Linked DNA regions of Homo sapiens: regions 2, 3 and 4 are each reported to be linked to region 1. Evidence: microRNA targets listed by miRTarBase, many of them from high-throughput screens and not tested one by one. Region 1 holds a microRNA gene; each other region holds the end of a gene's coding sequence.

What was found. Region 1 holds the annotated microRNA hsa-miR-924 (AGAGUCUUGUGAUGUCUUGC, at 2,881-2,900, shown strand). A microRNA usually pairs through its seed, bases 2 to 8, with sites in the 3' UTR of a target mRNA and lowers its output. Matches are read on the target gene's strand: a 7mer-m8 pairs with bases 2 to 8, a 7mer-A1 pairs with bases 2 to 7 and ends in A, and an 8mer does both.
Region 2: miRTarBase lists UBE2V2 as a target of hsa-miR-924. Seed matches in the 3' UTR shown: 7mer-m8 at 4,854-4,860.
Region 3: miRTarBase lists PYCR3 as a target of hsa-miR-924. Seed matches in the 3' UTR shown: 7mer-m8 at 3,024-3,030.
Region 4: miRTarBase lists ZNF285 as a target of hsa-miR-924. Seed matches in the 3' UTR shown: 7mer-m8 at 2,538-2,544.

What each region holds. Positions count from the first base shown.
Region 1 is chr18:39,617,931-39,625,052 of GRCh38, reverse strand. It overlaps MIR924 (microRNA 924), which reads left to right and starts at 2,878; the gene lies at 2,878-2,930. The region is part of intron 2 of MIR924HG (MIR924 host gene); the gene reads left to right.
Region 2 is chr8:48,060,313-48,067,434 of GRCh38, reverse strand. UBE2V2 (ubiquitin conjugating enzyme E2 V2) reads right to left here. Exons shown (of 4, transcript NM_003350.3): 4 at 2,727-6,753. The coding sequence ends at 6,607. Among named protein-coding and RNA genes, the nearest start is that of UBE2V2, 55 kb to the right of the region's middle.
Region 3 is chr8:143,599,829-143,606,950 of GRCh38, reverse strand. It overlaps PYCR3 (pyrroline-5-carboxylate reductase 3), which reads left to right. Exons shown (of 6, transcript NM_023078.6): 4 at 272-484; 5 at 797-889; 6 at 1,069-3,741. The coding sequence ends at 1,251. It overlaps TIGD5 (tigger transposable element derived 5), which reads right to left. Exons shown (of 1, transcript NM_032862.5): 1 at 3,727-7,122. The coding sequence ends at 7,119. Among named protein-coding and RNA genes, the nearest start is that of TIGD5, 5.6 kb to the right of the region's middle.
Region 4 is chr19:44,379,786-44,386,907 of GRCh38, forward strand. ZNF285 (zinc finger protein 285) reads right to left here. Exons shown (of 4, transcript NM_152354.6): 4 at 2,513-7,122. The coding sequence ends at 6,687. Among named protein-coding and RNA genes, the nearest start is that of ZNF285, 18 kb to the right of the region's middle.

The DNA of each region.
Region 1 (7,122 bases):
GGACTCTACCTTAGAATAATTTGTATTCAGATAGAAACTGAGAGTGGAAATGAAGCTGATTAGGTTGGGGTAGGAAGAGGTGTTATCCGTAGTCTTGTTTTGGCTACACAAAGCGTGGATACACTTCAGATTTATATATGGAGAGGGCAAGGATGCAGTAAAATGTTTAAATTTGGTGTTCTGAAAAGAGAGAAAATTAGGATATATGAGTTGAAGAATCACAATATATAGATGCTTTTTAAAGCAATGGGACTAGATGATGTGGAGGGTAAGGGAAAGAGCATGTTGAGGGAAGAGATGGGAATCTACATTCATTTATAACAGCAACAACATTCCTCAACCTCAGAACATGATTAGCACTTAAATCTTATGTAACCTGTATGAAACTGCAAGCCAATATGCAAACAGGTTAGTTAAATCAAGCATAAAGTCACCTTTGTCCTATTTTCATTGGAGTTAACACAATACAAGTCTTGTTCTTCATCCTCAGGCTTACATGATTTAAACTAATCATTTCATTTAATACATAGTTAAGTGTATCCTGGCATAATAATTATCATTAATCAAACTTAAAAGGAAATGTTTGTTACTTGGAAATTAGGTTTTATTCTGGCACAGTATCTTTAACTAGCTGTCCAGATGTTAAAATTGATTTCTGGAAGATCTAAGTTGAGATCTCAAGGCATATAAACCTCTAATTCTTACTGTGATTGGTAATCAGTAATTCTCAATTTCTTAAATTAATTATTTAATTCTGCCAAGAAAAGTGATCTTGGGATTCAAATAAACGTGACTTTGAATCTGAATACTATACATTACTGATGACTTTAGCTAAGTTACTTAACATTTTATGAACAGTTTTCATACATCTAAAATGGTAGTGATAATGCCTACACCCTAGAATTGTTGTGAGAATTAAATAAAATAATGGATGTATGAAGGGATTAAGTATGTGACTGGCACATAGTAAGGGCTCAGAAAATGCTATTATTTTGTTAAAGTCAGAAAAAAGGAAACGTACTATCAGGGATTCAAGTACTTGGATATAAGCAATAGTTTACAAACATTTAGTTTCTTTGAATCTTGCGTTGTATTTTAAAACTGTGTGCATTTTTAACTTTTCCTCACAACAATCTGTTTGTGTTAACATGAAATTCTCCATCAAATAATAGGTCATATTGACCTTTAAAGAAAAGAGTATGTAAAATTCTACTTCCTAACACCTAGAACACCATGCTTCAAAACAAGATGCTGGGATAGAGGAAAGCTCATTTAACAGTCTTAATATTGTCAGTTAGTATTAATGTAACATTCATATTTGTGAGAGATAACATTGACTCCCAGAGGAAAGAATGAAAATACCCTAATATTTGCCATATTTACCCATCTAAATCTTATGATCTGAATCTCAGTGACCTTTATTGATCAGTCATAGTAAGCCTAGGAATACAGGAGTGAAAGCTTATTAAAAAGTTTTACAGTAGGAATGAAAAGAAGTAAAGTAAACATGGAAAAGGGCCAAGTGGGTGACTTGAGAGATCCACGTGCTCTCCATCCGACCCTTGACTTGGGGTTTTATACATTGGCGTGGTTCTGGGGTTTGCATTTCATCTCCCTTGATTTTTTTTTGGGCTGGCTATCTGTACATACGTGCAGTGGTCTGTCAGCACTTGAGAGGGGCTGCATGCACAGTGTTTACTGCAATTGTGCACATGCTCATTTGAGGCATTTTTCCCTTACCAGTGGAGTGTTCCTAGAGGAAGGTCATATACCAATTAAACTCTACCATTTTGCCTTTTACTGTGCATACTTAAGCCTGCTCACCAAACTCCTGAGATCTTAGGAAGCTACTGATCACCAGTTTCGCGTGTTTTCTGTCTTTTGGGAGACTGCCATTTCCTGGCACCAGCTATGGTTGCCCTTCACGGGGTAGAAGGCCCTCTCCTGCCATGCTCATGTCTGCCTAGCTACCTATTCTAACATTCTGTGCACCTAAAGGTTGAAAATGAAGCAAAATTAATATAATTGAACAGTTTATTTGTGCCAAGGTTGAGGACTGCTGTCCAAGAGTCATAGATTCAAGTAGTCCTGAATATATGCTGCTGTTAGCATTTACAGCAGTTCCAAGTGGATTTTCAAAGAAAAAATGAAGAAGTAGAAGTTAGAGGCAGTTCCTAAAAATTTTTTAAATAAGGTATATTGTTTATTGAAATAATAAGCTGTTGACTATTTATTATTCTTTGTATCATAAATCCCAGGAACATGAAGAAAATAGGTGAGAGTCACATTGTAAAACTTGGGGTAATATTTTAGGAAGTTTATCAGCTAGTCTGGAAACTACACGGAAGGAAAGAAAAAAACCAAATGCCTTTAAACAATTACCCTCCAAGCATGGATGTGTGGGATGAGAGGGTGAGTGAAGTCTCATGCTCATGGTTCTCTGGGCATGAAAAATGTTACATACCTCACATTCCTCAGACTACTTTGAGGAATCTATAGATAAAAATTGGGGCAAAAAGGAAAATTTAAATTCATGTCTGAGCTGGAGAGTAGAGAAAATGGTACAAAGAGACTCATATAAAGAAGGATTCACTTAGGGTTTGGGTTTCTATTCCACACACTGTTAAAATATGCTCTTGGCTGATGGACAAAATGGACTTCTCTTGGCTAACTGAGGTGCTCAAGGTTAAAACAGAACCAGGCAGCCAAGGCTGGGTGAGGAAGGGATCACATACTCTGTATTCTTGGGAAAATGTTTTAAAAGTGTCACAGGACCTCTTTCTGCAATCAAACTAAACCAGTTTCTGTTATTTATCCTAAGATAGATTGCTGGTGAAAATTCCTCAACTGACCACCCACAGACCACCTAAGCCAGTCAATAGAGTCTTGTGATGTCTTGCTTAAGGGCCATCCAACCTAGAGTCTACAACTGATTCCCTTCCATCCTATGGTTTTTGCCTTTATAATAATTTTCTACTCCTTGACTCCTCTTCGGTGTGTATTTTGGTTTGCACTGAAGGCTGCATCTCCCCAGTCTGCAGATTGCTTTTAGAAAATAAAGTTCTCATTTTGCCTCTGTAAATCTCATTGGTATATACTGTAGGAGCAAAGAAAGCTTCCCCTCTGCCCTCTAAAGGTTTGCTGAAAATAAACTGAAAATAGGCAGATTAATAATACAAAAAGGCATACAACATTTATTTAATGTGCAGGAGTACGAGGGAATCACAGGAGAATGATGGCCCAATAACTCAATGAGGTCCAGGTATTTATATAACCTTCTCAGGAGAAGGGGCAATCAAGGTTGTAGCAATTTTGAGGGGTAGTAAATGATTTTTAGGGGGAATGAATGGACTCAACAGACAAAAATTAACTTGGAAATGATTCTCTTTGGAATTCAAATAAGGCTGAGAGACATTATCTTATAAAAATGTCCCTCCAGATATGGTTGCATTCCTGTCTTCTTTTCTGTGATAGGTAATGAGATTTCAGAGAGGGAATGGAGGGCAGTTGGGTTCCTTTGGCAGGTCCAGTCTTAAAGTAGATAAGGAAATTTCAGAGAAAAGCCTAAATCCTGTGCTTTGTTTGGAAGAGCACATTGTCATATTTTTGGGTATTGTTTTCTGAACCCCAATAATAGGCACACAGATAATTTTTCCACTGAGGACTCCACATTTTAAATTATTTAGCAATAGGCTTTTTGACATTTTTACTAATCATAGGTATATACTCTCCAAATTTTTTGATCAGCACAAGCTATATCACTTCAACCAGAGTTATTCCAATGAGTTGTTACTTTACACAAAGCAAAGAAGCCTGACATTGATCTAAGTCTGAGCAGGTTTTTCTTAGTTACCTGAAAAAGGCTTTAATTTAGTGTTTTCTTGTTTGTTTGTTTGTTTTCAATATTACAGAAGACTTGTGAACCTTTATCACTTAGCCCCATGGGTCTAAAGACCATATTAGAATGACAGACCAGAAGTGAATCTTTCTCCTCTGGTAGCCAATATTGAAGTATTTGGAAGTGGTGACATGTCTGGTATTCAAGCCCTAGGAGATATCTGAGAGACTGATCAAAGGAGCAGGGGAAGCCTGTCTCTTGTATGCCCCAATTTCACAGAATACCTCTTTGTATTTTATAGTCTTTTACTATCTGTTGTTGCACTTAGCATAGAATTGCAAATTCCTATTGATTGATTAAACCAATTTAGACTGGTTCACTTGTAGACGGCCCAAAGGGAAAAACAGAAAACAAACAAAAAAGAAAAAAATATCTAAGTTATTTCACTTCAAGGGCCTCTGAATGTGTGTTGCAATACAGAGAACAATGATCTCCTCTGTCACGCAGTTTCTTTTTTCAAGATTCCTTATAGGTTGTTACTGTTTTCCCCCACCACAGTTTGTAAATAGCAGAATATGAAACAGGCAGTTGTTCTAGTAATTTGCAGTTTCAAACCTACATCTTAATGCCTTTCCCCCTAAGTCATTAATTACAGCACAATGGATCAAAATCTCAAGCACACACCTCCTTCAGAGGACTATGGCTGGTTTTATAGTTCAGGAAAGGGCAGAGCCAACTGTCTTTTCTTCTGACCCTTATGAATTGCATGCACACCCAAGCCAGCTTGACCTCTTTATCTAAAATCTTGAAGTTGTGACCCAGGGAGGGCCTGTGAAGACAAGATCTATAATGAATGTGTGACTTAAATATGCTTATACTATGATTGACTTTGTGGTCACAGTGGCTATATGATATAGTTTAGATTAGTGCACCCACACAAATCTCATGCCAAATTGTAACCTCCACTGTTGGAGGAGGAGCCTGGGGAGAGATGACTGGATCATGGGAGAGGACTTTCCTCTTGCTGTTCTCGTGATACTAAGCGAGTTCTCATGATATCCAGTTGTTTAAAGAAGTGTGTGGCAACAACTTCTTTGCCCTCTTCCTCCTTGTTTGGCCATGTAAGATCTGTCTGCTTCTCCTTCACCTTCTGCCATAATTGTAAGTTTCCTGAGGCCTCCTTAGCCATGCTTCCTGTACAGCCTGCAGAACTGTGAGTCAATTAAAACCCTTTTCTTTATAAATTACCCATTCTCAGGTAGTTCTTTATAGCAGTGTAAGAACGAACTAACACAGAAAATTGGTACCAGGAAGTGAGGCATTGCTAATAAGATACCTGAAAACATGGAAGGAGCTTTAGAACTGGGTAATGGGCAGAGGTTGGAACAGTTTGTGGGGTTCAAAAGAAAACAGGAAGACGAAAGAAAGTTTGGAACTTCCTAGAGTTGTGTTGAATGGTTGTGACCAAAATGCTGATAGTGATACGAAAATAAAGTCCAGGCTGAGGAGGTCTCAGATGAGATGAGAAATTTACTAGGAACTGGAGTAAAGGTCACTCTGTGTCCCAAATTGGTGGGTTCCTTGTCTCACTGACTTCAAGAATGAAGCTGCGGACCCTCGCGGTGAGTGTCACAGTTCTTAAAGATGGTGTGTCCAAAGTTTGTTCCTTCTGATGTTCACACGTATTCGGAGTTTCTTCCTTCTGGTGGGTTGGTGGTCTCGCTGGCTTCAGGAGTGAAGCTGCAGACCTTCCCGTGAATGTTACAGCTCTTAAGGCAGCGCGTCTGTAGTTGTTCAATACTCCCATCTGGAGTTGTTTATTCCTCCCGGTGGGTTCGTGGTCTTGCTGGCCTCAGGAGTGAAGCTGCAGACCTTCGTGCTGAGTGTTACAGCTCATAAAGAACGTGCGGACCCAAAAAGCGAGCAGCAGCAAGATTTATTGCAAAGAGCGAAAGAACAAAGCTTCCACAGTGCGGAAGAGGACCCTGAGAGGGTTGCCACTGCTGGCTGGGGCAGCCTGCTTTTATTCCCTTATGTGGCCCCACCCACGTCCTGCTGATTGGTCCATTTTACAGAGAGCTGATTGGTCCGTTTTGACAGGGTGCAGTTTGGTGCGTTTACAATCCCTGAGCTAGAAACAAAAGTTCTCCAAGTCCCCACTAGATTAGCTAGACACAGAGCACTGATTGGTACATTTACAAACCTTAAGCTAGACTCAGGGTGCTGACTGGTGTGTATACAATCCTCCAGCTATGCATAAAGGTTCTCCAAGTCCCAGCTAGACTCAAGAGCCCAGCTGGCTTCACCTAGCGGATCCTGCACCAGGGCCACAGGCGGAGCTGCCTGCCAGTACCGCGCTGCATGCCTGCACTCCTCAGCCCTTGGGCGGTCGATGGGACCCGGCGCCACAGAGCAGGAGGCGGTGCTTGTTGGGGAGGCTTGGGCCACGCAGGAGCCCACGGGGTGGGGGGAGGGTTGGGGAGGCTTGGGCATGGCGGGCTGCAGGTCCTGAGCCCTGCCCTGCAGGGAAGCAGCTGAGGCCTGGCAAGAATTCAAGCATGGCACGGGCAGGCCAGCAGTGATGGGGCACCCGGAGCCCCCTCAGCAGCTGCTGGCCTTGGTGCTAAGCCCCTCACTACCCTGGGCCGGCAGCTCAGACCGGACGCTCTGATTGCGGTCCCGCCGAGCCCACACCCACCTGGAACTTGTGCTGGCCCATGAGCGCTGCGCGTTGCCCCAGTTCCCACCCACGCCTCTCCCTCCACACCTCCCCCCAAGCAGAGGGAGCCGCTCCAGCCTTGGCCAGCCCAGACAGGGGCTCCACAGTGCAGCGGCGGGCTGAAGGGCTCCTCAAGCATGACCAGAGTGGGCGCCAAGGCCGAGGAGGCGTCGAGAGTGAGCGGGAGCCGCCAGCATGTTGTCACCTCTCAACTCTGCTATGCTTTAGCAAAGAGACTGGTGACAGTGTGCGCCTGCTGTAGGGATCTATGAAATTTGAACTTGAACATGATGATTTAGGGTATTTGATGGAAGGAATTTCTAAGCAGCAGAGCATTCAAGATGGGCCTGGCTGCTTCTAACAGTGTATGATCCTATGCGTGAGCAAAGAGATTATCTGAAACTGGAACTTATATTTAAAAGGGAAGCAGATCATAACAGTTTAGACAATTTGCAACCTGACCATGTGGTAGAAAATAAAAATCCATTTTCGGCCAGGTGCAGTGGCTCACCCCTGTAATCCCAGCACTTTGGGAAGCTGAGGTGCATGGGTCACAAAGTCAGGA
Region 2 (7,122 bases), not on the chromosome of region 1:
CTGCCCACAGTCGCAGGGCAAAGGGCAAAATAGGTGTTTTCCCTAGGATTTGCAGTAGATTCCTCTGGACTGCTCTTCATTTATCAATAGTACTATCCAGTTCGGCTTAGAACATCATGCTAATGGCTTCATTTATCCATATTACTGTCCAGTACAGCTTAGAACATTGTGATAATTGCTTCATTTATCCATATTACTGTCCAGTTAAGCTTAGAACATTATGCTAATGGCTTCATTTCACAATATTACTATCCAGTTCGGTTTAGAATATCATGCCAATGGCTTCACTTATCCATATTACTATCCAGTTCCGCTTACAACATTATGCTAATGGGTAGTTACACTCTACCAGATAGGAGGTGCCAGATGAGGGACCGGCAGACTTGATCATCATCTCTGTAACCAGGAGTTGACAATAATGTACATATATTTACCTATGAACTCAATATTATCATCTACATACAAGTACCAAGTAAGCAGCCTTTTATAAGGACTTAACATGGGGAGGGTTTAATAACAAGCATGCCAACATGTTTGATAAACACAACTTAATAAAGTTCACATTTCATTAAAAATTACCTAGTTTTTAGCAATGAAGCTTTTTTTGTTTTTTTTGAGGCGGAGTCTTGCTCTGTCACCCAGGCTGGAATGCAGTGGCACGATCTCAGCTCACTGCAACCTCCGCCTCCCAAGTTCAAGCGATTCTCATGCCTCAGCCTCCCAAGTAGCTGGGACCACAGGCACGCACCTCCATGCCCGGCTAATTTTTGTATTTTTAGTAGAGACGGGATTTCACCATGTTGGCCAGACTGGTTTCGAACTCCTGACCTCAGGTGATCTGGCTGCCTCAGCCTTCCAAAGTGCTGGGGTTACAGGCGTGAGCCACTCTGCCGGGCCCACTTTATAATTTTAAAAGATCTTGCAGTTTTGTTACAGGTCTAAAGAAGAAGAAAAAAAAAGATCTAAGAGCCTAAGTTCAATGTATGCACTAAACAATAGTTTAACAAAAATAATTCAAGACAATACTAAGTCCACAAGAACTTTCCTTCTCAAAGGGATCCATATGTTACTAAAATTTAAAAACCGATGCAATTAATTTACTCTTCTTGTGAACTCAATTATTTTCACTTGAGTATTAGGATAACTGAAAACGTACCCAATACCCACTTTAAATTTGTCTGAATAATCATTGCAATTATCCAGATTTTTTTACATTATAGCAACAAAAAGGTAATTTATAATAATGGATGTAATCGGAACATTTGACCACCATTACTTAAGTGGCTAATGTGGCGTGATAAAGAATGAAACAATATATTTATCAATTATCAACTGTGGAAAAAATCTGTTCTTCAAGTTAAAGGCTGATAAACTACAAGGGCTATCAAATGTAATAAAGCATTAGCAAGTATCAAGTATCATGTTTATTAATTATAAATGGATGAAAGTCTTTAAATAAAAAACAGGACATTCAGTATTAAAACTAATTTTACTACATTTTAATATGAGGATGTCCTGTTAAAATCTCATTTCATGATGTGATTTTTCAGTATTACCCTGTAATCTATTATTAAAAGGAAAAAAAAAACTGAGCTGGGCAAGGTGACTCATGCCTGTAATCCCAGCACTTTGGGGGGCCAAGGCAGGAGGATTGCTTGAGGCCAGGAGTTTGACACCTGCCTGGACAACATAGCGAGACCGTCTCTACAAAAAAATTTTTAAAAATTAGCCGAGTGTGGTGGTGTGTGCCTGTGGTTTAGCTGCTCGGGAGGCTGAGGCAGGAGGACTGCTTGTTTAAAAAAAAAAAAAAAAAAAGCCTCCTTGTAATCCTTGAACAATATTTTTCTTTCATTACTCAACTACTGTACTGAACAAGCAATGCAAAGTATTCACTATGGATAAGATCAACAATTTGCTTTTCTATTGACCACAGGTTTCTTTTGACTATTGGTTTCTTAGTGCCAACTAAGAATAACAACTCTGCTTTGGTATAATCTTTTAACTGCCAAAATTTCTGGATAAAGTAGCTGCTCACTATTGACAATGACAAGATAGAAGAATTCACACATTGAGTCTATCTATTTGGCAGCAAATGGATCACTGCACAACACTTAACATGGTATTTGGTCAGTTAAACACTGGAGAAAGGATAATCCCTGGAATCTCTATAAGAAAACAACATCTATCAGCCTTTATCATTTACTTCACAAATTAACCTGAAGCAAAAACTTTTCAGATGGTCTTATAGACTACACAGAAATATGAGATGCCAGCCAGGGGTGGTGGCTCATGCCTGTTATCCCAGCATTTGGAAGGCTAAGGCAGGAAGATCACTTGAGGCCAAGAGTTTCAGACCAGCCTATACAACAGAGACCCAGTCTCTACCAAAAACAAAAAACAAAACAACAACAACAACAGCAAAAACAGACATGGTGGCGTGCACCGGTAGTCCCAGCTACTCAGGAAGCTGAGGCGGGACGATCACTGGAGCCCAGGATAGCCAAGGGTAAAGTAAATCGTGATCGCACCAATGCACTCCAGCCTGGGTGATAGTGCAAGACCCTGTCTCTAAAAAAAAAAAAAAAAAAAAAAAAAAAATTTAATTTTAAACATGAGATGGAGCAGATTCTTAGGAATTTTTTAGATGAAAAGATCCTATTAAGGATATAAACACCATAGCAACCTCCTCATATCCAATGGTTTTTTTCAATCATGTAACTCACTCCTTGAGTTTGCACAACTCCTTTATTGAAACAAAATGGACTTTAACTTGTCACTTATTTCCTATATCATTAAATACCTTCATTAATTTTCTCTTCAGAAAATACTTATTGTGTATCTTTATTTTCAACACTCCACAATACTTTTAAATAAACAACATTTTCAGTATGAACTATGGTAAGATTTCATCATTCTATAAGGCATATTATTTAGGAGGTATTCCTTCCTATGCATTTCCTATTTTACAGTAAACTCAGTATCAGGTAAAAATTAACTGCTAATGTTCCTATCAACAATTCATCCATTCCTTTTTATGACACTTTTATCTTGTATACAAAAAAATACACAATTTTCCCAAACCTTGAGGAGTTGAATTTTGTGTGTGTGTGACAATAATTAAAAGCCAGTCAAGTTGGTACTGGAAAATCATTTTGATACTTATCAGAAAAGTAAAAGCAGTGCTTTTCGATCCATCCCAGCAATAAATGATACTATGATATTACACATACAGATGCCTAAAAAGCATACTATAAAAGGAAAATTCCTGAAATGCCTCCAAAATCCTATTATGCATACTAGACTTTATCATCAGTACTTATATTCTTCAAAATGTACCTAATACAGTCACATGCTCATTAAAAGAGTTGATACAGTTTTGATGGCAGGCTACAGTTCCCTGCTGTCTTTCCATGATGCATCAGCAGAACCATTCAAAGCCACACACACCAAACCTATTAAGAAAAAAGCATTCATAATTCCCAGCTGTGTCCTCTACATTTTCCAAACAATATTAATTTCACATGTATTTATCAATATTATATATTTAGTGGGAATTAACATTAAAATCAACATATTGTTCTTAAGTAATCCAGACTAATAAACCATGAGTCAAACAAATCTACTCTGCGAAAACCTCAAATCACTCTGTGTGATAAATTATTTTAATAACATAAAGCTATAAATTTTCTCTATTTTTATATCCAAGACTAAATACCATTGACTATCCTTCAAAATGTTTATGTTCCAAAATCCTGTAGTTACACATAAACCCACAACAAAAGACATTACTTTAGAATGGTAGAAAAAAATATTTTTAAAAATTGTCAATTCTTAAAATTGGTTAAGTAATTAAAACCATTAAATCATAACACTGACCTAACAGGACAAGAAGTTTCTTTTGGTAATCTTTATTAGTATATGATCATCCTCAAGGGTCTCACTTGCTAGCCTTTTAAACAAATTTCTAAGGCAAATTTACAGTTCATTTAAAAGGTAATAAATACCACACACTCCTACAACCTTAGCCACTTTACAAAACAAAGGAAAAATTTCTTCCAAATGTTATTATAATTAAGAGCTTTTCTATATTAATTCCTCTTACAGTCTCCCAGTGTGTCTTAGATTGCCAAGTACATCTTGATTGTGACATGCAAAATGGATTCTGCTTTAGAAATGGGTTAATTGGCATGCAGATTTCTGCAGAGATCCATAATCCCACAAACAAGAGGGGAAATGAACATTATAGGGCTGACTCTGACAACATGTACTTGGCAGGGGAAGGCGGCAGGGGGTTGGCAACTTCACAATGGTGGATTTGGGGGAAGGAAACAGGACAAGAGACTGAGGTACCCAGACCCTCATCCTGCCAACAGCATTCACGTAGTTACTAGCTTCCATGTATAATAAGACACATTTTCAAAATGGAAAGGAGGTTATCAGAGAGACGGATTCAGATCATCAGTTACCATTAGACTACAGTTTCATTCAATTTAATCTTTAACCATTAAAAATTTTTAAAGACTATATTTCAAGGTAATAGTTCATTTCAAATTTAACAAATTACAAATGCACTAATTTGTATGTATGTGTATGTTCTCTATGTGTCATCTTAAAGCATTTTAAACATTTTTGATAATTAAAATGCAACAGCCATGTTGAAATTAATGTTTACATAAACTGTCAGTGACTTTATTGGCCAAGAAAAGGTAGCTCAAAGCTTTAACTTTATATGAGCTTGATAAAAGCCTTTCAGGGCATGTTTGAGAAATGTGCTCTACTATAAAAGTAACTATTTTAATATACAGCCAAGGTCAATTATTAATATTTTTCTTTTTTTTTTTTTTTTTGAGATGGAGTCTTGCTCTGTTGCCCAGGCTGGAGCAGTGGTGCGCTCTCGGCACTGCAACCTCTGTCTGCCAGTTTCAAGTAGTTCTCCTGCCCAGCCTCCCGAGTAGCTGGGACTACAAGTACCCACCACCACACCTGGCTAATTTTTTGTATTTTTAGTAGAGACAGGGTTTCATCATGTTGGCCAGGCTGGTCTCAAGCTCCTGACCTCAAGTGATCTGCCCGTCTCAGCCTCCCAAAGTGCTGGGATTAGCGGCATGAGCCACCACATGGCCAATACTTTATAAGCAAAGTTTAAACAACTAATTTAATATTTGATAAGGTTTTGGTTTGCCTATATATACTGGGGTAAAGTATGACACAAATTATTAAGCTTGACAAAATAAAAGTAGACTTTACCTGACCACCTTTCTATATTCTTCAGTGAATTCATCAAACAGCATTTTCAACAAAGCTTTGGATCCAGTACTTTGAAGTGAAACAGTGACCTAAAGCCTCACGTCACTTTGGTGAAAGCGGAACATAAATGACTTTTCAACTTCAGAGTTCATATTTGTTAGAGTAGAGAATACGAGGAATGAATAAAGTTATCCTTGTTAGTATTAAAAGCCCTAATTGGAAGAGAAAAGTCTCCAATTAGTTGACCCTATTTATTAACCAAAAGCTTCACAGAAAAACAACTAAAAAAGATATTATGCTTTAAAAAATGGGATATATATTTGGATAATTTGCAACCTATAATCCTAAAAGAACTGCCAGAATGCAAAGATCTTTTTAATATTATTATTTCTGGTGAAATCAAACTCAAAATATAATACCTAGGACTCCTTGTCCAAAGAAGAAATTAAACTAGATAATTTCTTTTCTGAAATAGTCTGCAAATTATAATTCACAAGAAGTACACAAAATAGGGTAAATAAAAGTGTGTATACATGAAAAGCTACAATAATTCCAATTTTTGCTTCCCTGGCAAGGTACTGTACATATACATCAACATAATAGAAATGGCACAGTCTCTGAGGACACGTTTCACATTTTATTTACATTTTAAGACTAACTTTAATCTCAAAATCACATATCCATACACCTATTTCCTTTTTGTTGACTTCACTTAAACTTAAATGCATGGTTTGTTAAACAAAGACTGTAAACAAATATTTACCATGTCTGTTACATGTAACACACAAGAACAGCTTTTAACAGGAATTCATCAACTCCCCCCAACATTTTTTATTATAAATACAGGTATCAAAACAATCCTGAACATATTTTTGATACTACTAGTAGTCAGCACCCACATTGCTTCAAAAATTAACACATCTGTGACAATATTCATTGTACCTGCTACTTTTTAAACAATTTCAACTGCAGCTCTCTTTCACTAAGTAAGATGGGTAAAGCATGCCATTTCTGTTTTCTTGAGATTTTTACTTTTTAGAAACACACATGCTTCCACTGCCATCTGACACTTCTCCACACGCTTTCATCTTGTAAACCTGAATTCTATTTCGAGTACTCCAGGTTTATGTTTAAATGACAGTGCCTTTCAAGAGAAAAAAAATTGTGCTGCATTTTTCCTCCTGTTACCTGAAAACATAATGGGTGTACATATATTAAATATATTCTTACAAATGTCCAGGTCATGTTTACCAGCTGGAATTCTTTTACTTAATGTGTATTTTGCATTGTGATATTTAATCAAGACATTAACATGAGTAGAAGGTTGTTGATTTAAGACAAGTTTGAGATCCACTAAAATTAATTGTTGTATGTTTGTCCTTCTGGTGGCTGTGGAAGCTTCATATTTTCTTTGGACATCATTAGACGTCTTAGCTCTTGAAGTACAACTTTAATGCTATATGAATTTTGCCATTTTGCTAACACTGGTATGCTCCGGGCATCCACCTGAAAGGGGAGGAAAGAGTACAGTTAACTAGCAAGTTTAAAGTACTATGGCACCAATTTGTTAAGCATATTTTAATAAGAATGATTTTGAAAATTCATAGCTTGCCTCTATTTTCACAAAACATACACTATGGAATTACTAATACCATAATTAGTATATTTTATCATAATTAGTTTAATATTTTGGGAAAATATAAAGACATAAAACATACAGTGAACTTTGGTCATCAGAAATAAATGTTATATTAAATAACTACTTTGTCAATAAATTTACCAATTCTTTCTTAATGGAGTAAGGTCAAAAGGTTCCTCTCCATTTCCAATGCCACCGCCCAAAATCTGGGGAATTATCTCACACTGAGATTTAGA
Region 3 (7,122 bases), not on the chromosome of region 1:
GAGTGTCCCTTGGGCTAAGGCCTTGGTCCCAGTATAGGCTCTGCTGGCCAGGCTTGGGCGGCAGGCAGCCCCCCAGAGAGCCTGAGAGGTGGCCGTGTGGCCCACCTGGATCAAGTGGCTGGATTTAGGGTTCCCTCCTGGTGCTGTACCTGGGAGGCAGACGCTGGAGCCCACCGCGAGCTGACGTGGACCTTTCCTGAGGCCCCTGCTGGGGCCTGCCCAGCAGGGCCCAGTCCTACAGACTCCCTGATTCTGACCTCTCTCTGGCCAGCTGCTGCCCCCAAACACACGGGTGCTGCGGGTCTTGCCCAACCTGCCCTGTGTGGTCCAGGAAGGGGCCATAGTGATGGCGCGGGGCCGCCACGTGGGGAGCAGCGAGACCAAGCTCCTGCAGCATCTGCTGGAGGCCTGTGGGCGGTGTGAGGAGGTGCCTGAAGCCTACGTCGACATCCACACTGGCCTCAGTGGCAGTGGCGTGGCCTTCGTGAGTATTGCCTCGTCCATCCCCGGCCCCACCCTCGGCAAAGAGGGGGCCCACCCCAGTCCCTCTGACAGCCTCTGCCCTCAGAGTCCAACCTTGAGGCCTGCGTGGTTGCTCCCCAGGCCCACTGGGAGCTCTGCTTGTCCCCGGGACTTCACTGCCTTGGGGATCTTTGAGGCCAGCCCCTTTGCAGACCGTTGGGCTCAGGCCTTGGTTCTGGCCACCCACGGCTACTGCTCTGGGCATTGTTCCTGAAGGTCCTGAGCCCCCAGGCTTTGACACCTATCCCCCCCAACCACCATGCCGCGGCTACAGGTGTGTGCATTCTCCGAGGCCCTGGCTGAAGGAGCCGTCAAGATGGGCATGCCCAGCAGCCTGGCCCACCGCATCGCTGCCCAGACCCTGCTGGTGAGTGAGGGTGGCCCCTGGGGAACATCGGGAAGGCCCAGGCCTGTACCTCTTCCAGTGCGCAGGGAAACAGCAGGCTCGAGAAGCTGGGGCCAAGGTTGGGGGATGCAACGAGGGCAGGCCGCACAGTGGGGACCGCACCACCTCCCCCCGTCACCAGGCCCTAACGCTCTCCTCAGGGGACGGCCAAGATGCTGCTGCACGAGGGCCAACACCCAGCCCAGCTGCGCTCAGACGTGTGCACCCCGGGTGGCACCACCATCTATGGACTCCACGCCCTGGAGCAGGGCGGGCTGCGAGCAGCCACCATGAGCGCCGTGGAGGCTGCCACCTGCCGGGCCAAGGAGCTCAGCAGAAAGTAGGCTGGGCTCTGGCCATCCTTTCCTGCCTCTGTGCCCCTGCCTCTCCCTGTGTCCCTTCCCCTGAGGACTGCGGCTCCCTCCCTCCTGCATGAGGGTCTCCTACTGCTCCTTCTCCCCTTGCACAGGGAAATGCAGGGGGCAGGACTTGGGAGGTTCCAGCAGGCGGGGGAGCCCCGACCAGTGGGGACACTCCTCCCTCCCCAGTGAGCAGAAGGCACCGTGGTGGTGGCTCTGCCCCTTGCTGCAGTGAGCCCACCTTGCTGCAACATTGGTTCTGAGGGGCCCAAGAGATGGCGTCTTGGTCATTTGCCCGCATGGTTGGGCAGTTGGTTGAGGCCATGAACAGAACTTACGGTAACAGGCACGGCTGGCCCAATGCCTGGTCTGGAGCTGGAGCTTGCCTTTGGCTTTCCAGGTGGCTCCGTGCAGCTACAGCCAGGCCGGCTGCCTCATCTCAGCTCTAGGGGGCACGAGCCATATGGGGTCTGCACAAGAGACCCTCTCCCCTGCAGTAAAGCCAGGGGCCCTGGCCTGATGGGGCCCCCATGGGGAGCTGGAGCCTGCCCTGCAGCCTGGAGAAGAGGGTGGCTGTGGTGGGCGTGCTCATCCCCTGCTAAGGAGCAGGAGCTGCTGGGCCAGGTCTGCGGCAGTGCTGGGGTGGCACCAGGTGGGCAGTGGTAGGTGGGGTGGCTTGAGGTCTGGGAGGGTGGCCCTGGCCAGCCAGGACACATGCAGACCCCTGGCTTTAGTCTGGATACAGGCTCCCTCTTTCCTCCCAATCCTAAGCTCCTGACAAGTGGCCAGGTGGCTCTGGGCCCTCCTGCCCCGTGCCTAGGTCAGGGGTCCTGGAATACCCCGTAGCTCTGGCACCACCACACTGGCCTCTGATGGCAAGACTTGGCCCCTCCACCTGTCCCTAACGGACGGCAGGTCAGGAAAGCCAGGACTCAGGGGAGAAGCAAACCCCCAGGATTGAAGGCTAGGGTTCTAGGGCCTTTGGGTGGGGAGGGCCCGGGCCGGACAGCCTCAGCTCCGTCCCCTGCCCCACAAGATTCACCTGGGCCTCCAGTCCCACGCTGGCCCCAACTGCTGCAGCTCTCGGCTTCCGCCCAACAGCCTCTGGAGGTGAGGCGGGAGCATGCCCTCAGCGAGGCTGGGCGGCGGGTCCTGCTGTGCCATCTCCCTGTGCGCCTGAGCAGATCAATCCACCAGTGCAAAACAGGGCTAACGGCACCTGCAGGACAGCAGCACGCTCCATCCCTCATGCTCAGCTGCCTCTGCGGCCACGGACTTCTGCCCTTCATCTGCTCTCTCTTACTCTCCTGAGCCTAGCCCGTCCGTAAGCTCCCTCCCCTGCCTGGTTCCCAGGGCAGGCTGACTCAGTTGACTGCTTGGTCCAAGCCTGGCCCTGGCACTTGTCAGGGTCAGCCTAAGGAGATGGGAATAAAGAGGCCAGAGAGCACCAAGTGAGCTCATGTTTCACCAGAGGTGGATAAAACCAAGTTCTGGGCTGGGCCCAGTGGCTCACATCTGTAATTCCAGCACTTTGGGAGGCCGAGGCGGGCAGATCACAAAGTCAGGAGTTTGAGACCAACCTGACCAACATGGAGAAACCCCATCTCTACTAAAAATACAAAATTAGCTGGATGTGGTGGTGCGTGCCTGTAATCCCAGCTACTTGGGAGGCTGAGGCAGGAGAATTGCTTGAATCCAGGAGGCGGAGATTGCAGAGAGCCAAGATCATGCCACTGCACTCCAGCCTGGGTGACAGCAAGACTCTGTCTTGGAAAAAAAAAAAAAGAAGGTCCAATGCCTGCCCCATAAGTTGAGGCCTGGAACCTTGGTCAAGCACAGGTGTCAGCCGAAGGGGGTGCTGGCACTGTGGACAGCAGAGGTCTCCCCATGCCTGCTACAGGCCTCTACATCACCTGGGGGCTTTGTAGGGCATGGAATTGCAGTTTCCCCTGCACGCTGTCACCCCAGGGGACTGTATGCCAAGCCTGGGCAGGCCTGGGAGCCTGGGGTCTGGTGCAGGCGGCCCCCTGAAGGAAGGTGGACAGCCCTTCTGACGGCCACCTGCATTCACACCAAGCCCATCTGCAAGGAGAAATCATTGACTTTGCACCAACACCTGTCTCCCCCTGGGACCTCTGACAAGCCCTGGGCACTAGGTGAGCTCAGCTCGGGAGGTGGAGATCCCAAGCCAGCCACTCCTGGCCCAGCTGGTGAGGGCCTGTGACAAAGACACGGGCTCAGTTCTCGGCACGGCAGGGAGCGTTGTGGTGAGCCAGGCCTCCCCTGTGCCTTCTACTTCCAGGTGAAAACTGTTCTTCAAGACAGAAAACGATGGATATGATTACGGTATCTTTGATCAATGTTCCACTTTTATGCCCTATGCCCCAACTGTTAATCTAGGGGGTATTCCTGATCCAAGCGTTGGATCAAGAGTTTAAAAATAAGACTTCAAAACAGGGATGCTCATGAAGTGGACATGTCCAGCCTTTATTAGATAAAGCCACTGGGCCCATCTGACCAGGCGAGCTCAGCTGTAAACAAGCTCGCCAGTTAGAGGAAGGGCCCTCAACAGAGCATGACCCCACAAGCCTAGGGACTCCGACATGCTGTTGGGGCTGCTCCCCATGGGTGTCTCAACTAGGTAGGTAAGGGGTTGGGGTCTCTGCAGGACCCCCCCGTCTGGGGGTGCTCCCCTTCCTTTCCTACCACAGTGTGATGTTTCATCCGCAGCCCAGTGGACATCGAGGGGGTCCCCCAAGCCTGCAGGTCCTTGGGCCAAGGCAGTGGCCTCGTCCCCCTGAAAACGCGGGTCGGGTGGTTTCAACAAAACCTGCACTCATCTTTCCCTCCTCAGCGCCTTCCCTTCTCCAGCCCCCACAAGCCCAGGAACTCTGACAATGATGCTGACACGGGGGTCACTAACTGGAAGAGCAGTGAACAGGAGCTGGGGGCTCTTGGGGGCCATCTGAGCTGAGGACAGCTGGCTGTACCTCCGAGGCCACAGGCACCCCCACCCACCCCTGCGCCTGCAGGGAATGTGCAGAATCTGCCAGAGCGGAGGCCAGAGCCCGCAGGCAGCCACGGCTGTTAGAGGAAGCAGATGCAGCCTCACCCCAGCCCACGTCTGTCACCACAGCCAGGGCCTGGCAGGCGATGGCACCCGCGCAGCTTTGGGAAAGAACACTTGGCCTCCCAAAGGGTTCTGCCACCCCTGGGGGCCGCTACAGCCACCAACCCTGGGGTCTTTCCATCACTTCAGACACTGAGCAGAACCCAGAGAGGGTTAGTGAGCTGCAGGTAGGGCTGGGACGGGGCCCCAGGTTCCAGCCCAGGGTCTCAGGGATCCATGGCTGGCACTGCCCACAGGGCCAGGCATGGGCAGAGCAGCCTTCTCAGCAGCGGGGCCCAGCGGCCAAGCCTCTGTCACACAGCACCCTGTGCCAGCATGCCCCGTGCTAGGGAGAAGATGCTTTTTAAGCCCTCTTTAGGGGGTATTTCCCGTCTAGTAAGTGCCAGCAGGCAGACCCACTCTTGACAGGCTCCTAATGTCCCCACCAGCGTGCACCTGCACTTTTTTTTTTTTTTTTTTGAGACAGAGTCTCGCTCTGTCGCGCAGACTGGAGCGCGGTGTTGTGATCTTGGCTCACTGCAATCTCTGCCTTCTGGCTTCAAGCATTTCTCGTGCCTCAGCCTCCTGAGTAGCTAGGGTTACAGGCACCTGCCACCACGCCCAGCTAATTTTTGTATTTTTAGTAGAGACGGGGTTTTCACCATGTTGGCCAGGCTGGTCTCGAACTCCCAATCTCAGGTGATCCACCCGCCTCAGCCTCCCAAAGTGCTGGGATGACAGGTGTGAGCCAACGTGCCTGGCCTCTTTTATCTTATAGCAAAAATTAGTGCTGCCTTGTTTATAGAAAGTGGCCATTGAGGGACTGGGGGACAGGCCACAGCCACCCCGATGAGAGGAGCGGGCCTGCCCTCACCGACACCAGCCTCCTGGGACCCGGGCCAACAAAAGGGCTGAGATGGGAAGAAAGGTTGGAAATGAAAGCCTCGCCAAAGACGCAGCGGCAATGAGTAGTTGGGCTGAAGGGCAGCGCCACGGGCCGCCCAGACTACAGACAAGGCCTGGCTATGCAGCCCTCACTGGCACCGCGGCCGTGAAGTCAGCTTCTCCTCAGAGCCCTGGAGGCAGGCCTGGCAGAGCAGAGGTGGTGTCCCCGCCTTGGGGGCCTGTGCCCCTGGGAAGGTGCTGGCCCAAATGTCTCAGGCTTTCTGCAGCCCATCCCCAGCAGTTCAGGCCAGAGGCTCTTCCTGCAGGTGGCGGTGGCCTGATGGGCTCAGCAGGCATGCCTGGAGCTGCTGCCCTGAGCTCTGCTCAGGGAGTCTGTTTCTTCTTCCCCAAATTTCCACGGCCTCCCTGAGCTCTCAGATTTTGAGATATAGATATATACATATATATGTATATATTTCTTCACTTGCGGGCAGTTCCAAGGAACTGTTTGTTCCTGGACCTGTATAAAGGTCACTTTTGGGGGACACCCTCCAGCTGCCCCACTGCCAAGCTGGTGCACAGCCCTTCCCTTCCCCGTGCAGGCCTCCAGCCTACCCCTGCACTCCACAACTCTGGGTTTTCAAGGTTCCCTCTCCTAGGAGGACACTGGGGGCAGATGGGGACGAGGGGTCAACACCTGGAGGCAAGCAGGCCAGCTCCCTGCCCCTCACACCAGCTCGGGCAGCATCTCTGCAAAGGCAGTTCCCACCCTACCTGAGGAGGCATGGGCATCCCTGGCCCCAGTCCAACCAGAAGGACTGTAGGTCTAGACCTGGCCAGAGCAGAACAGAACCAGGGTTTGACAGGCCCTGGGGCCCTTTCCTCCTTTCAAAGTAGGCCTCCCAGGAGCAGCTTGTCAGCCACATCCTTGGCAGTCCCAGGAGAGGCAGAAAAGTCTGAGGGTGGGGAGGAGAGCCCACAGAGGGTGGCACTGCGTATTGCCCTGGGGGCTAATGCCAGGGCCTGCTTCCAGGTAAGTCAGGTGGCTCCAGGCCCTGGGACTGGACAGAATGGTCTGTGGCTGATGAGGAAGCAGGGGAAACTCTCCTGCCGTTGGCCAAGTCACCAGGGCCCAAAGCCAGGCAGCTGCCAATCCCACGGAATAAGAGATCTGTTCAGTTTTCTTAGGGAAAACTAAAAATCCAAGGAAACGGAACTCTACACCTCCCTGCTGCACCCAGAACCTAATACAGGGCTCCACCCCTCCCACTCCACAGTGATGCTCCAGTACCTGGGGCCTCTGACCTCCAGAGAAACCGCAGGGCGGCCCGAGACCAGCCCACCCGGCCCCTGTTCTCACGGCCCCTCTGAAGAGTATCTTTAAAAACAGATTTAATGTGTTAAAAAAAAATAGAATCAAGTGGTGTGCTTCGCCACTGAGATGATTGTGCTGTGGCTCCGGGGCCACATAGCACCAGGGCTCGATAGCAGACAGGAGTTTCGGCCCTCGTCCAGTGCATGTGACTGGTGCAGGGGCGGAGGCCCAGCCCCACGGGGGCCAGAGCAGGAACACAGCCACCTGTTCCAACAGGCGCTGTGCCTTGTATGCCCCGTACATGTGCCTGCCCTGAGAGGAGCATGGGCCAGGCCTCTCTTCCAGCTGTGCCCCCAGGGTGCCAGTGAGGCAGGGCGACCTCTCACCAACAGAGCTCCTCCAAGCCATGCTGGATTTGGATTCCTGGAACCCCCTGTACCCATGCGGTGGGCCACCCCAGGGGGAGGGGAGGAGAGATGGGAGACTGTGTGTATGTCCCCTCCCTCCAAGTGCAGCAGGAGAAAGGTCACTGGGCTGGCCTGGTCAC
Region 4 (7,122 bases), not on the chromosome of region 1:
ATATAAATGAACTTAAAAACATTATGTTAAATGGTGGCAGCTTCTATAGAAAACAGAATGGCAGATCCTGAAAAAATTGAAAATACAATTACCATATGATCCAGCAATTCCACTTCTGGGTATGTGTCCAAAAGAATTGAAAGCAAGGTCTTGAAGAGATATTTGTACTCCTATGTTCATAACAGCATTATTCACAATAGCCAAAAAGTGGAAGAAACCCAAGTGTACAAAGGAAGAAAATTCTGACACATTCGACAACACAAATAAACCTTAAGGACATTATGGTAAGTTAAATAAGCCAGTCACAAAAAGACAAATACTGGGCTGGTCATGGTGGCTCACGCCTGTAATCCCGGCACTCTGGGGGGTCGAGGCGGGCGGATCACAAGGTCAGGAGATCGAGACCATCCTGGCTAACATGGTGAAACCCTGTCTCTACTAAAAATACAAAAAATTAGCCGGGCGTGGCGGCATGCGCCTGTAGTCCCAGCTACTCGGGAGGCTGAAGCAGGAGGATGGCGTAAACCCTGGAGGCAGAGCTTGCAGTGAGCCGAGATCTCACCACTGCACTCCAGCCTGGGTGACAGAGAGAGACTCTGTCTCAAAAAAAAAAAAAAAAGAAAAAGAAAAAGAAAAAGAAAAAAAAAAGGACAAATAGTGTATGATTCCATTTACGTGACTCAGAGAAGTCAAATGCATAGAGACACAAAGTATAGTGGCTGCCAGTGGCTGGGAGGAGGGGAAAATTGAGGGTTGCTGTTGAATGGGATAGAGTTGAATGGGATAGAGTTTTAGTTTTGCAAGATAAAATGAGTTTTGGAGATTGGTTTTACAACAATGTAAATGTACTTAACACTACTGAGCTATATACTTAAAAATGGTTAAGATGGTAAATTTCATGTTATGTATATTTCACCAGAAAAAAATTGTAAAAAGCCGAAAGCATTCCAGGTAGCTCTAGTTTGCATCTAAGATTAAGAGACATTTATTTCCATCAAAACCAAGGATCTGAAAGGAACCAATTTACAAGCTCACAAGTTAGCCTGACAGTCTCACAGATGCTGGCACAAGACAAGAGACTCCTGGCTCTGAGACAAAGGACTTTATTAGTCACAACCACAGCAGTAGCCAGAGTGTCATCCTTTGCAATGGTTTTTACCACTCTAATCCCATAGAGTGACGTGAAAGGCCAGGTGCTGCTTGCATACCTAGCGGGCTGCGTTGTAGGAATAGAACTCTAAGCTTAGGAAACCTGAATCTTCTATGATAGGCAGTGGGAACAAAACCACTGCCCTTCACCCCAGAGGGAGACACTGTCTTCACTGGAGTGGTCCATAAACAAATTTGCTGCTCCAGAGGAAGACACTATATTTTTGTTCCCTAACGCGTACGCACCTTTGAAAAGACAGTGGGGAACAAAGGTGACCAGTGTCTCTACTCAAAGACATGCAGAAAAAGAGAAGTAGATACTTAAGTAACCATAGTGTCTGCAGAAAAATAAAAGAAAAAAAATAAGAGAAGCAGATACAGAGAATGAGTGGGGAATGAGGAATAATAACTAATGTTACATTCTACTTCAAAGCCAGTTGACTACAGAAGAAAAAGGCCAATTCTGGGGTTACATCTCCTTTGTGAGTGGTATGCTAATAAATGTTTAATAAATGGCTCTCCAGAAAGAAACATACGTACATTATATAAGTTTACTATAAATTTTACTAATATAGAATGTTTTCAGAACACAATTTATAAACAATAATAAAATATGCAATACTCTATTTATTATAAATTACAAATTTAGAAAACCATGTTGAATGAAAAAAAAGCCAAACGCAAGAGTATATTACAGTATGATTTCATTTATATAAAGTTCAAGAATAGGCAAAACCAACATATGGTGATAGAAAGCAAAACAGTGATTATATCCTTTTTTGGAAAGAAATGAAGGGAAAGGGGCACAAGGGAAATTTTGGGGTAAAGAAAATGTTTAACATGTTGAATGGGCATTATTTACAAGGATATGTACATTTGTTAAAACTTAAATGTAGTTAAAGTCTGCACTTTATGTAAATTATACCTGAAAAAAAAGACAAGACAGATCAGACATCTTCGGTAGCTGTTATTATGCTTCTATGGGCAGTCTAGTGGAGGCATAGCCACTGGGCCCAGTCTGCCAGCTGCATGCTATTTGTATTTATTGCCTGTAGTTGTATGAAGAGCTAGTGTTAAGTAGTGTTAAGTAGTAGTTATCAGTATAACTGATAACCCAGCATCAGTTATTAAAATGACTATTATTTCTCCAACATATTTCAAGGCTAATAAACTAACTCACTGTATACATGTGGATCTGTTTTTGGGCTCCCAATTCTTTTCCATTGATCTATTTTTTCTCTCCTGAGCGAATACCACACTGTATTAATTATAGAAAATTTATAATAAATGTTGATCTCTGGTAATGTAAGTCCACCAGTGTTGCTCTTCATCAAATTTTATCATCACACATAAGGGACTTTTTTTTTTTTTTTTTTTTTTTTGAGACAGAGTCTTGCCCTGTCGCCTGGGCTGGAGTGCAGTGGTGCGATCTTGGCTCATTGCAACCTCCACCTCCTGTGCTCAAGCGATTCTCCTGCCTCAGCCTCCTGAGTAGCTGGGATTACAGGTGCCTGCCACTATGCCCAGCTAATTTTGTGTATTTTTAGTAGAGACGGGGTTTCACTATGTTGGCCAGGCTGGTCTCAAACTCCTGATCTTGTGATTCAGCCACCTTGGCCTCCCAAAGTGCTGGGATTAGGACTAAGTTTTATAGGGAAAACATGTAAGCTAAGGGTCTGGAAGAGAAGGCACAGGACCACAATTTCTCATACCACTTGAAGAAGCACCAGGGCCTGGGTGAAGCAGGAAATAGACCACACCTCACCGCTATGTTTTTATCCTTCTTAAAGAGCAATTGTGAAGGCATCCATGTTGGTGAGGGAACAAATTGACTATGCAGGTAATCTGGACTACTTAACTAAAGCAGACAATCTGGCTTTAGTTGTCAGAGCTTCACAGAAGTTGCATGAGAAAGCCAGGTTCTAACACCTCCCATCAGGAAGAGAAAGCCGCTGGGAAGTTGAGTTCATGTAAAGCCCTTCCCACTGAAGAATGTGGGAGTCTGAGGCCCCAGATAGCTCCTCACCTAGGCATCCCAAAGGGAACTCCCAGAATTACCTTTGGACAATTCTGGTCATTGCACACAATTGTTATTGTGAATGAAACATTTTGGCTACATTTTATAAAAGACTCTTACATAGTAATGCTATGAATTTTCACATGCCAATTTCGTGTGAAACCAATTTGTTGACCCGATAATTTTAAAACAGCCTTCAATTGGTCAAATTTTACAGGTGGATTTGAATTTTATAAGTAAATAACATTATTCTCTAGCATAAAAATAGTATCTTCCTTTTCCTTCCAATGATTATGTCTCAACATTTTTTATTTTGTCTTAATCTCACCCCATGAATCTGGGCCAGTGTTGTGACTTGCTTTAATCATTAAAATGTGGTGAAAGTATCATTGAGCCTGTTCCCTGATGAGGCCTTAAGAGATCACAGCTTTTGCCCTTGAAACCCTGGCACTATGGGACCAACCCTCGATTGGTCTTCTGGAGGGTGAGAGACCATGATGACAGAGAGAACTTCGTTGTCTCATCTATGACCATCATAAAACAGCCAGGCCCAGATGAACCATCAGCTGACTGCAGATGCATGTACAAAGCCCAGTTAAGATAATCTAGCATGTCCCACACCAGAACTGCCCAGCTAAGCCCAGTTGAACTTGCCAGCTCACACATCATGAGCTAAATAAATATGTATTTAGAGCTACTCAGTTCTTGTGTGTGTTATGAGGCAGAAGCTGATAAGCATATTTAGGATAAATTATACATGAGCGAGTCTGTTACGCTTTTATCAAATCATTGGATTTGACATGCTCATATTTATTTAGGATCTCTGCATCTTCATTTGTAAATGAGATTGGCTCCCACTGATTGGGAGCTAGACTAATTTCTGCTTTTTCCATGCTACTTTGCTACAAGAGGAAAAGCAAACAATTTTGTGAAGTAGGGAGACATTCCTGTTAGCATCATATATTTAAAAAGCTTAATGTGATATGCAAGCGCTGCTCCCGGCCAAACTAGAGGATTGCCTGGGACACCTCCACCAACACTGAGGGCTGATTCTGTCATGAAGGAATGTTGCACCCATTCTAAACCCCAAAAGCTTCCTAGGATAATGTGTATCCCGGATTTTTTCTCTAACTTAATGTTTGCAAGTAGGAGTACTGGAGTATGTGGTGGACATGGACAATAACATGTGGACATTTTTATAGGTCTAGATCATTGTTGATGGAGCCATGTTATTCCATTATATGGGATGCCCTAATTTACTCAATCTCTTATACATGAACCTTCAGGTTGTTTACAGTCTTCTCATTGCAAAATTCTTAGAACATATTTCTTTCTGAAACCATATTTTCCCCACTCATGTAATTACATCCTAAAAATACATTCTGAGAAGCAGGATCATTGGCTCAAAGACAATGCACATTGTACATATGATACATATAGACAAGATCCTCTCCAGCAACTTTGTACCTGTTTTTCTTTCCCCCACCAACTTATGTAAGAACACTCATTTCCTCATTTCTACTGACATAGAATTTTTAAAATATTTCACTATTATCCACCTGATCAGTAAGAAAATGACACTTCAGGGATGGTTTTATTTGCACTTGAATGGCTGTTCTGTTTACAAACTATAACTAGCAGGAAACTGTAATGCAAGAAAAACTAGGAATAAACCATGATCCAAATGAAGAAACCTATAAGTCAATTAAAACAAAAAAGGACACTGTTTTTGAAGGAAAAAAAAAACACCTTGTGGGATGAGTGCAGTGGCCCAAACCTGTAATCCCTGCACTTTGGGAAGCTGAGGTAGGAGGATCGCTTGAAACCAGAAGTTTGAGACTAACCTGGGCAACAAAGTAAGACCCCATCTCTACAAGTACAATTTTTAAAGAAAACATCAGCTGAACACGGTGGTGTATGTCTGTAGTCCCAGCTACTCAGGAGGCTGAGGCAGGAGGATCACTGAAGCCAGGAGTTCAAGGCTTCAGCGAGCAATGATCAGGCCACTGCACTCCAGCCACCTGGGTGACACAGCAAGACCCTGTTTCCAAAAAAAAAAAAAAAAAAAAAAAGCAAAGAGATCTCCTCTCGAATTCATCTATTATCCCCAATTAAATGACAAATTTGGGGGGAAACTGACAGAAAGAGCATCCTTTAAAAACCCATTATTATACAGGTCTGCTGAGAAGAAGACTGCATCAGTCTGCAATGAACACTGTTGGTTTTTTACATGTTGTTGGTCACTTTAGTAAATGTTGATTTTATTCAATTAATTTTATTAAGACTAACCACAGAACACCTATTCTAGTTAATTTTTAATCGCATTTAAGGTGTGAGCTGACAAACCTATTCAGCATCCCACATTATAGAGTTTCTCTATTATATGAGATTTCTTACGTCGGTGGGTTATACTTTTCAGTAAAGTTTTACCACAGCTATATCATCTGGAACATTTCTCTTTGGTGTACTCACCAATGAATGAAGGTTATCACTGAAGAAGTCCCATCCATACCATTTTAGATGGTTGCACTGCCACATCAAGCCTTAAAGATTTAAAAGTTTTGAACTCTGAATTATGTTACTTCTGTATGTGGACTCCAATGACAATGAAACATATTGCTATAAAATCCCTCCATGCTAGTCAGGATAGCCTAGGCAATGCTGCAGTAATAAATAAACCACCAAAAATCTCAGTGGTGAGACACAATGAACTTTTATTTCTTACTCTAAAAAGAAATCCAACACAGATGAAGTAGTGACCTTCTATCAACCCAGTCTGGAATAAGCAGCCTCCAAGGTCACCTTGGCAGGGATAGAGAAGCCTGAGGATGTTTGTAAAGGCTAGACCTGAAAGTGGCTTATATCACTTTTGCTCACACTCCATTGGCTAGAACTCAATCACATGGGCACACTCTTAACTGCAAGGGTTACTGGGAAATAGACTTCTTATTTGCAAGGAAATGGAACCAGTGTGATAAACACAGCACTGCCTCTGCCACACCCTTCAAATGCCACTTCTATGGAGCTTCTTGCCTGTGTAGAGAATCTCATGGAAAACCTGGGTACTAACGTTCTTTCATAGTAAGAGCATGGGTTTCATTTTTGAGCACACTTTTGAATGTTCTTCATACAGAGAGTATTTTTCTACTGGGGACTAAAAAAAAATCTAAAGACGTTGGCTGAACTGAAGACCTTACCATGATCATCCCAATTAGAATTTCCTTCCTGGACACACCCTTTAATGGAAATTTGACCACTAACTACAACCACTACCACAAACCACCCATTTGTCAAAAGTAACCTCTTTGCCATTGTAGCATACAGCAGTTGATGGGAGCTTCACAGAAGTTCTTGAAATCCACAGTCCTTGCCTGGCACACTTCAGTGCTGCAGGCTGACATTATCGATGGCAGTGTCCCTGTCTTTTGCTCCCCTAGCCCTCCCACAGGCTGAGTAAGCCTCTATCATCTGGAATACAGTGTGGCTTCTGTTTTACTAATTGAACCCTGACTTACTACATTTATAATGTTTCTCTCTGCTCATGTAGTCTTTGATGAGTCAGAAGGTCCTTTCCACGCTCACAGTGTGTGTACTGTGTCTCATCTATATGCACTCTCTGATGGGCAAGGAGGTATGAATTACGACTGAAGCCCTTACCACATGCCTTACACTTATAGGGCCTCTCTCCTGTGTGGACTCTGAGGTGAACATTAAGATCTGAATTCCGGCTGAAGCCTTTACCACACTCATCACATTTATATGGTTTCTCTCTGATGTGATCTCTTTGATGTAAGTGAAAATATGAACTGTAACTGAAGCACTTTCCACACACTTCACATTTATATGGTTTTTCTCCAGTGTGAACTCTCTGATGAGTGTGAAGAACAGAGCTATACGCAAAATCCTTTCCACACACATTGCATTTGTATGGTTTCTCCCCTGTGTGGACTCTCTGG